Linked DNA regions of Homo sapiens: region 1 is linked to region 2. The links come from fine-mapping of genetic effects on gene expression. A gene starts in region 2. The other region holds a variant in brackets. All regions are shown on one strand. Distances are from middle to middle. Region 1 overlaps ACTL8 (actin like 8). Region 2 holds the start of ACTL8 (actin like 8).

Region 1 (4,393 bases), 71 kb after region 2:
ACGGAGGTGATTTCAGCAGCAAGAGCGGCAAGAGGCAAATAGGATGGTGAGGTTGGAGGAGGCTGGGCCTTGTAGGCCTGGTAGGCTGTGGGGAGTGCTTGGATTCTACTTTAAATCAAGGATTGGCAACCCAGTGAGCCAAATCCGGCCCACCACCTATTTTGTAAATAAAGTTTTATTGGAACATAGCCACACACATTCATTTATATGTTATGTAAGATAGAAAGAGAGAGGAAAGAAAAAAGAACATATGCTCATTGCCTGGTAGGTAAAGCCCTATTATTATTTTTTAAATAAAAACTTTCCAAACATGAAGACAAAACAGGAATTCTGATATTTAGGGTTTGGCAGAGTGTGCTTTCATACGACAGCATCTGAGTTAAGTTGTTGCAGCAGAGACTGTTTGAGACCATACATCAAGTTAAAGGCTAAAATATTTACTATTGTAGGTTTACTAGGTAAAATACGTGATGCCTAGTTAGACTTGAGTTTCAGATAAATTACAAATAATGTCTTAGTATTTAAGTATGTTTCATATTGCATGGGGCATACTTACACTACAATATTATTTATTATTGATCTGACATTCACATGTAACTGGGCATCCTGTAGTTTTATTTGCTGAATTTGGCAACCCTTACTGTCTATCCCTTTACAGAAAATGCTTGCCAGCCACTGCTCTAAGTGAATAGGAAGTTCCTGGGGAGTTTTAAATGGAGAGTTTTAAATGGGGGAGTTGTATCTGATTTTCTATTTGAAAAAGAGGACCTTGGCTGCTATTTTGAGAAATGGCTGGTGGGGGGACAATTTTCTGAGAGTAGTAATGGAGGGAGCCCCCTCCCACTGAGGGGAGACGATGGGCTTGTGGGGGCTTGAAGAGGTGAGTAAGTGGCTGGGACCACAGAAGGGTTGACTGTTAGGATCTTTCTGCTTCTATGGGATTAGAACCTTGGGGAGGCTGCCAGAGCTGAGGAATGGGGGGCAGGGGGGCTTTGTAAAGATTCAGGGGGTGAGGAGCAGGGGGAGAAAACCAGCCCAGGGACTCTGGCAAACCCTAAATACCAGAATTCCGGGTTTGTCTTGACGTTTGTAAGGTTTTTATTTAAAAGAAAAAATAAGGCTTTTCCTGCCAGGCAGTGAGCATCTTTTCCCTTTTTTTCTTTTTTCTTTTCTTTTCTTTTCTTCCTTCCTTTCCTTTTTCCTTCGTTCTGGCGTCTTTTTTCTTGTCTGTCTTATCTTTCTGGTCTGTCTTTTCCAGTCTTCCTCCACTGTTTGGAGACAGTGGTGAATACGCAACACTTGTTTCTTTTCTAATCTGTTCTTCCTTCTAAAGAGGCGGTTCAGGCTGCACATGTGACCCGTGGCCATGTTGCTCCTGCAGCCAGTGTCCCAGAACCATTTCTTGCAGCCACAGAGCTCTTCTCACCTCTTCACCGAAGTGGTCTTCTGAACAGCCACGACCAGACAAGCTCCTGAGGGCAAACCCAGCTCCCCTTCTAATCCTCCAGAGCTGCTGCATTATCCTCACTGCATAAGCTCCAGGGGCCCTGGGCGCAGCATCCTGGGGCAGCCCGAGAGTCCCCCCGAGGATGGGGCTCTGTGCTGACTTCAGCTTTGACTGCTGAGCAGGCTGGGGGGAAATGCACTGAGTGAATTCTCCCTCGTTGCAGATCCTGTTTGAGTTGCTGCATGTCCCATCGGTCCTCCTGGCCGACCAGCTGCAGATGTCCCTGTATGCCTCTGGCCTCCTGACCGGAGTGGTGGTTGATTCTGGCTATGGCCTGACCCGCGTGCAGCCTTTCCACCAGGGCCGCCCCTTGCCCGCCAGCGGCAAGACGCTGGAGTTCGCCGGCCAGGATCTCTCCGCCTATCTCCTCAAGAGTCTCTTTAAGGAAGATTGCGATAGACGCTGCCTGTTTCAGCTGGAGACAGTCGCCGTGACTCAGATGAACAAGTGCTACGTGCCGCAGAATCTGGGGGAGGCCCTGGA[C/T]TTTCGTGAGAGGCAGCAGAGTGCCTTGGATGAGAGCAACACCTATCAGCTCCCAGACGGCTCCCGCGTGGAGCTGACCCCCATGCAGCGGGTGGCTCCTGAGATGTTCTTTAGCCCGCAGGTGTTCGAGCAGCCGGGGCCCAGCATCCCACGGGCCATTGTGGAATCCGTGGAGTCCTGCGAGATCTCCCTGCGCCCCCTGCTGGTCTCCCACGTGATGGCCTGCGGGGGCAACACCCTCTATCCCGGGTTCACAAAGCGCCTGTTCAGGGAGCTGATGGGGGATCACGTCTCCTCCACCAAGGCCACAGTCTGGGAGGGTTCCAATAGAAACTTTAGTGTCTGGCTAGGAGCGTCCGTGGTGGCTCACCTTTCTACCTACCAGTCTGAGTGGATGTCCCGAGAGGAGTATGGTGAGCATATGAGGATGTGACCCTACTGGCTCACTCCTGAGAATGGGCTCCTGTTAGATGGGCACGGGCGGATTAATTTTAGCAAAATGTTCTGGGTGGGGGTAGAATGAGGTGGGGTGGGGTGAGCTGGCTTTGGAATTCTAGGGGCATGAGGGTATTTTTTAGGTTCTAAGGTTTTATCTTGTTGCAAGAGTGGGACCTACCCAAGGGGGAAGACAAGATGTCATCCTTGGAAACCCTGCAGGGGACAGTTTTTCCAGGGTGGCCTATCATTGGGGTATGAGTGGCTGACTGCCATCTCCATGCCTGAGAGCCACTGATTTTTCATTGGCATTTCCCCTGGTTTGTCTCATTCTTCTTGGTTGAGTAGGTTTTAACTGGGGTAGCACTCCTGCTAGGAGTCCCAATTATTTTTGACTAGGGGATGGGGGACAGTTGACATTTCTGGTCCTACAGGCCCTTTCTGGCCAGGGAGGCATTGCTGCAGGTGAGCCTGGGATGCCCTTGCCACCCGTGGTTGGATCTTGTTTTATATCTGCAAATAAATAGCTTGTTTGGAAGCAATGCTGGCTCCTGTGATGGATGGGGGTAGGGTGCGCAGCCCCTTGGGGAGACTTAGGGAGTGTAAGTGTGAGAGAGCCAGGTGGGGGCCAGGGCGGGCTCTGAGGTGTCTGGGGCCTATGAACAGTGGCTGCCACTGAGCAGAATAGGCAAGGGTCTGGACCCCGTGTTCTTTCACTGCCACATTCTATCCATCCATCCCAGGTGTCCCAATATTCTGTTTAAAGTTTCCCTTCTTATTCGTATTTGTTTGGTATATATCTGATGCATATTCAAGTACCTAGCATGTTTTAGGAGCTGTGCTGGACCTTGGGGACTTGAGAAAGATGTACAAGGTTTCTGGTTTCAAGCTTACAGCCTCCTGTGGGATCTATTGTAGACAGTATATAAGTAAACATATTTCTGATGATGAAGAATGAAATGAATCAAATGTGACACGGTCATGTGATCTGGAGGTGGAGGGATGGCCACTTTCAATGGAGTGGACTGAGATGAGGTTGCTAGGGACCATCAGTAACTGTGTCTTCTCCTTCCACGGCACACTGTGAGGCAATGCTCCCAAGTCTCCAGCAGTTATATAGGGCCAGGTGGCTGAGTTCTGGCTCAGTTGGCATGCACCTGACCTTAAAAATACTCCTTCACAGCCTGTGGGATGGGTCAATGGGGAGGACGTGTAAGCCCTAGGGGATGGATGGCAAATGCTGCAGATGGAAGGAGCCTGAGTGCCTAGGTGGAGCAGAAACCCCTGCCCAACCCCACCAACACTAGCCTGTGGCATGAGGAATCTATGTTCAGCCACTGAGAGTGTGGGGATGTTTGTTACAGCAACTGTTTTGCTTACTCTGACTAATACAGAGAAGGGAGCCACAATATACTATTTATTTAATAAAATGTGTTTTCTGTTAAGTGCCAGAACTGGGGTTTGAACCCAGCCTGGACTCTCAACCACAGTGTTATCCAGCTGTTTCTGAAAGGGATTCTTGGCTCCTTAATGTTAAGAGCTGGAATAGAGTAACAAGTGTAGTTTGGAAGACTGAAGCTCAAGGAACCCAGATATCTCAGGGCAAGTAGAGGAATTTGGAGGGCAGAGTCCAACTCACCTTGTCTTTGAACACATGAGCCATATTCTCATGTGTTTGCTCCCACACTTGAAGCATCAGCAGTCCCCAGGGAAAAGAGTGGGGGCCTGGAATAACAATTCTTAGGTAGACCAACTCAGAACCAGCCTGGTGCAAGCCCCAGACTTGGTGTCAGATTGAGTTTCAGGCTGGCCCTATCATGAGCTGAGCTGCCTTGGGCAAGTTATTTAACCTCTTTGAGTCTATCAAGTATAAAATAGGAAGTAATAACCACCTTCTCTCAGAGATTTGGAGTTGAAGATGAACTAAGATAGGGGATGAGAACTCACTTTGAAGCTGTGACGTGCTAC
Region 2 (4,393 bases):
TCTTAGAACGGATGAAATTTGTCATTTACTGAGAGTAAGTGGTTGTTCTAGGGTGGACATTGTGGCTAAAATTTCTATGTGGACAGGCTCATTTGTACCTCAAGACAACCCAAGAGGAAAATATTATTATCCCCATTTCAAAGATGAGTAGGGCAAGATTCAGAGTGATCATGAGGTGGGAGGCAGGACTTGACTCCTGATGTGGGGCTTGGACACCGGACCAAATGGCGGACTAGCTAAAATAGAGGGGGCAAAGCAGCTTTCTATAAGACACATCCACCAGTAGGCCATGTCAGTTTACCATTGCCATGGCAACATGCAGGAGTTACCACCCCTTTCCATGGCAATGACCTGACAACCCAAAAGTTACCACCCTTTCCCTAGCAATTGCTGTATAAACCACTGCTTAATCTCCATGTAATTAAACATGGGTATAAATACGACTGTGAGGCTGCCCTGAGCTGCTGTTCTGCCTATGGGGTAGCCCTGCTCTGCAGGAGCAGTCAAAGACTGGAGCTTTATCACTGGCCCTTCAATAAAGCTCTGCTTTCTTCTACACTTTCTTCTCGCCCTTGAATTTTTGCCTGGAGGAAGCCAAGAACCCTCATGGGCTAAGCTCTGTTTTGGGGCCTGCCTGCCCTGCATCAGTCAGTTGTCCTGCCCAAGACTCATGGTTAGTAAGTGGAAGAGCTGAGATTTGCACCTAGGATGGTCTGACTTCCAAGACAAAGTGATAAAGAGTGTGGGCCCTAGGACAAACTATACTTCAGTTTCTTCATCTGTAAAATGGGGATGATAGGAGTAACTACCGCATAGATTATTGTCCTATGAGAGTTTGAAAAGAGTGTCAGGCACAGAGCACTCAAGACATGCTGGGTTCTCTGGTAGAAGCAGAGATTTTTGCCTCTCTGAAGCTAACATTAGTGTAATAAAAGCTGCAACCGGACTAAGAGGAGAGGACTATGGGAGCCCAGAAAAGCAGGCCAATAGCTTAGTAATTTGGGGGAACCATCAGAAATTTGCTGTGAGGGAGCAAAAAGAATGTGTGATTCATGTGTGCACTTATTTATTCAACAATATTTGTTTACCCACTGTATTAGTCTGTTCTCATGCTGCTAATAAAGACATACTCAAATCTGGGTAATTTATAAAGGAAAGAGGTTTAATGGATTCACAGTTCCACTTGGCTGGGGAGGCCTCACAATCAAGGTGGAAGGCAAAGGAGGGGCAAAGTCACGTCTTACGTGGCGGCAGGCAAAAAGCTTGTGCAGGGGAACTCCCGTTTATAAAACCATCAGATCTCGTAAGACTTATTCACTATCATGAGAACAGTATGGGGCAAACAGCCCCCATGATTCAATGATCTCCACCTGGCCCCACCCTTGACACGTGGGGATTATTAAAATACAAGGTGAGATTTGGGTGAGGACACAAAGCCAAACCATATCACCCACTGTGTACAGGTAGTACACAGTGACTGGATTTGAAACCAAGTTTGGGGGCTAATTTTTAAAAATTGAGGTATAATTTATCTACAATGCAACACACAGATCTTAGTGTTCAGTATGATGAATTTTTACAAATGTATACAGCACCCCAATTGCAATAGAGAGTATTTCCATTGCCCTAGAAAATTCCATTGTGCCCTCTTCCAGCTAAATACACCCATCTCCACCTGTTTTTTTTTTTTTAATTTCTGTCACTGTAGGTTGCTTTGCCTGTTCTTGAACTTCTGTGAACAAATGTGAACCTGAAAGGGCCAGACCTTCAAGATGGATCCTGAGTGGCTAAGTGGGCTAGGCTCCGCTGTTCTTGCTTGTAATCCCATCACTTTGGTAGGCCAGGGTGGGCGGATCACTTGAGCCCCTGAGTTTACGACCAGACTGGGCAACATACCAAGACCCTGTTCTCTACAAAATAAATAAATACTACCCCCCCCCCAAATAAGAATGGGTAAGTGGGCCTAAATTTAAAATAGAATGAAGCAGCCACTTGCTGACTATGGTTACACAACTACCCTGACTTCCCCAGAAAACCTGCACCTTTTTATCTTTGGTACTTTCTCAGCTCACCTGAACCAACCAATCAGGGCTCAAGTGTATAAACCAATCAGGGTTTGGCTGTATCAACCAATGAGAGCTCAGCTATATTGACCAATCAGAACTAAGCAAGTTTCAATCCTTCATTTGCACATCTTGATCTGATTGGGAACCTGGGCAGGAACTTTTGCGCAAAACTTGATGCTTCCCTCATTCTTGGGAACTCCCCTTCATTTTCCAGTGGAGGGTGCATCTCCAAGTTTGCAAACTGTTTTCTGTACTAAAGTCTCTTTCCTCTAAATTTCTTTTCAGAGAATTTTGTGCATAATGTAAATGGAAACTTACAGATTGTGCTGCTTTGCGTCTGGTTTCTTTTACTCAGCATAATACGTATATGATTAATGCATTTGTTTTATGTATCAGTAGTTATTTTCTTTTTCACTGCTGATATTTCATTGTTGCTGGTTGTCAAATTATTGCCTCTCCGCTCCACATTCACCCTTCTTGCCTGCTTGGTAAAAATGGATCTGGGCCCTTTAAATTTTCTCCCTGGCCAGCAGGCATGCTGGGCTTTGCCAGTAGAGGGCGCTGGGGAGCCCCAGCAGCGGGGAGGTTCCGCTTCCTGCTTGCCACGTGCTCACAGAGTAGGCTGCGGCACCACGTGCAGCCGCTCTCGTGCAGGCGTTTGCAGTGTGCAGCTGAGTTCGGCAGCTCACACAGCACCCCTTTCAAGTTGTTTTGCAGTGGGTGCCTCTTGTGAGACACTGTTTCTGAGAGCAGCTTTTGTGGCATCTTACAGGGCAGATTTCTGGTACGTTCTAAAAGTTGAATTTCTAACTTTGGCTGGTTGTGGCCCCTGACTGTTTTTTTTTTTTTTTTTGTCCTTCCTGTGGCACAGCCATGCCCTCTTAAGCAAGGCCTGGCTGTCAGCCCCCAAGGGTTTGTGTGTGGGGCACTTCTTTGTGGGGTTGGGGAGTGACAGGCTCTACCTCAGACCAAGGGCTTTTCCTTAGGGACTTGATTTCAGCTTTTGGAGGAGACTCTTCCATAGCGGCTGTACCTCAGCCACATGTGTGGGACTGGGGGCCCTTCCTTGGGGGCCCAAGCTTAGCCCCTTGTGGGGGCACCGCCTGGAGGGGGTTATCTCAGCCTGGTGGAGGGTCCCTTCCCTGGGGTGAGGGGCTCTTTCTGGAGGTCTCTATCTCAGCCTGATATGGGGGTCTCTTTTTGGGGCTCTATTTCAGTCCTGGGGTGGGGGGCTGTTCCTTGGGGGCTCCACGTCAGCCCTGGGAGGGCTCTTTTTTTGAGGACGTTTACTCTGTCACAGGTGGCAGGAGGGTGTCTCTTCGGGACTCTACCGCAGCCCTCAGGGGCTTTTTCTTTGTGGACTTTATTTCAGCCTTCGGAGGGGACTCTTCCTTGGGGGATCAATCACAGCCCTGGGTAGGGGGCCCCTTCCTTGGTAGCTCTGGGAGCTCTTCTTTGGGGCTCTATCTTATCCCTTGAATAGGGGCTCTTCCCAGGGGGCCTCAGCCCTGGGGGCCTCTTCTTGGGAACTTTTTTTTAAACCTCTAGTGGGGGACTTATCTTTGGGGAACCTATGAAAGCCCCCAGGGGCTCTTTCTTGGGGACTCTACCTTGGCCTTGAGGGGTTCTTCCTTGAGAGCTTTGTCCAGCTCTGGTTTGGGGGATTCTTAGCGGGGGGTTGTTTATCACAGCTCTGGATGGGGTCTGGTCTTCAGAGACTCCATCTCAGCTCTGTGGGTTGTGGTTGCTCCTTGCGTCTGCTGTTTCTGTATTAATTATCGTTCTCTTTACTCCTTATCAGTCAATTTCTTGTTAATTCAGTTCTCTATTATAAGTTAATAATTCTTCATATGAAACTTTCCCTGTAAAAATCACTGTATGGTGTCCTTTCCTTGACTGGACCCAAACTGATACAGAATTGGTGTCAGGAATAGGTATCAGGAGATGGAACCACAGAGGTACCATTTTGGGAGTGGTTTTCTGGTGATTTTGGGCTTGGGTGTAGTGTCAAGTTCCTTGCCAATGGGAAATGGGGTGCTAGTTACCCAAGGCATGTGGTGACATTATATGAGTCTATCATTTGCGGTTAAGACAAAATGCCACCTGAGGCACGTCTGTTGGGAGCCAGAGTGATGCTGCACTTGACTGTGTGGCCATAATGAGGACTGTGAGAACTGTGGGGTGGGATGGATCCTTTTGAGGGCTCCTGTCTTCAAGGAACCAGATACTATGCTCTATTTAAAACATACATAGGCAGGCCGGGCACAGGCATGGTGGCTCAGGCCTTTAATCCCAACACTTTGGGAGGCTGAGGCAGGCGGATTGCT

Evidence for each region. PIP is the estimated chance that this variant, and not a neighbour inherited with it, causes the effect. A credible set is the group of variants that fine-mapping cannot tell apart.
Region 1: its variant is the best candidate, but not a certain one, in a credible set for the expression of ACTL8 in prefrontal cortex (GTEx, PIP 0.74).

What each region holds. Positions count from the first base shown.
Region 1 is chr1:17,824,097-17,828,489 of GRCh38, forward strand. ACTL8 (actin like 8) reads left to right here. Exons shown (of 3, transcript NM_030812.3): 3 at 1,671-2,967. The coding sequence ends at 2,423. Among named protein-coding and RNA genes, the nearest start is that of ACTL8, 71 kb to the left of the region's middle. RefSeq lists an enhancer at 1,932-2,521. The variant C/T (reference allele first, on the strand shown) is at 1,991.
Region 2 is chr1:17,752,655-17,757,047 of GRCh38, forward strand. It overlaps ACTL8 (actin like 8), which reads left to right and starts at 2,679. Exons shown (of 3, transcript NM_030812.3): 1 at 2,679-2,850.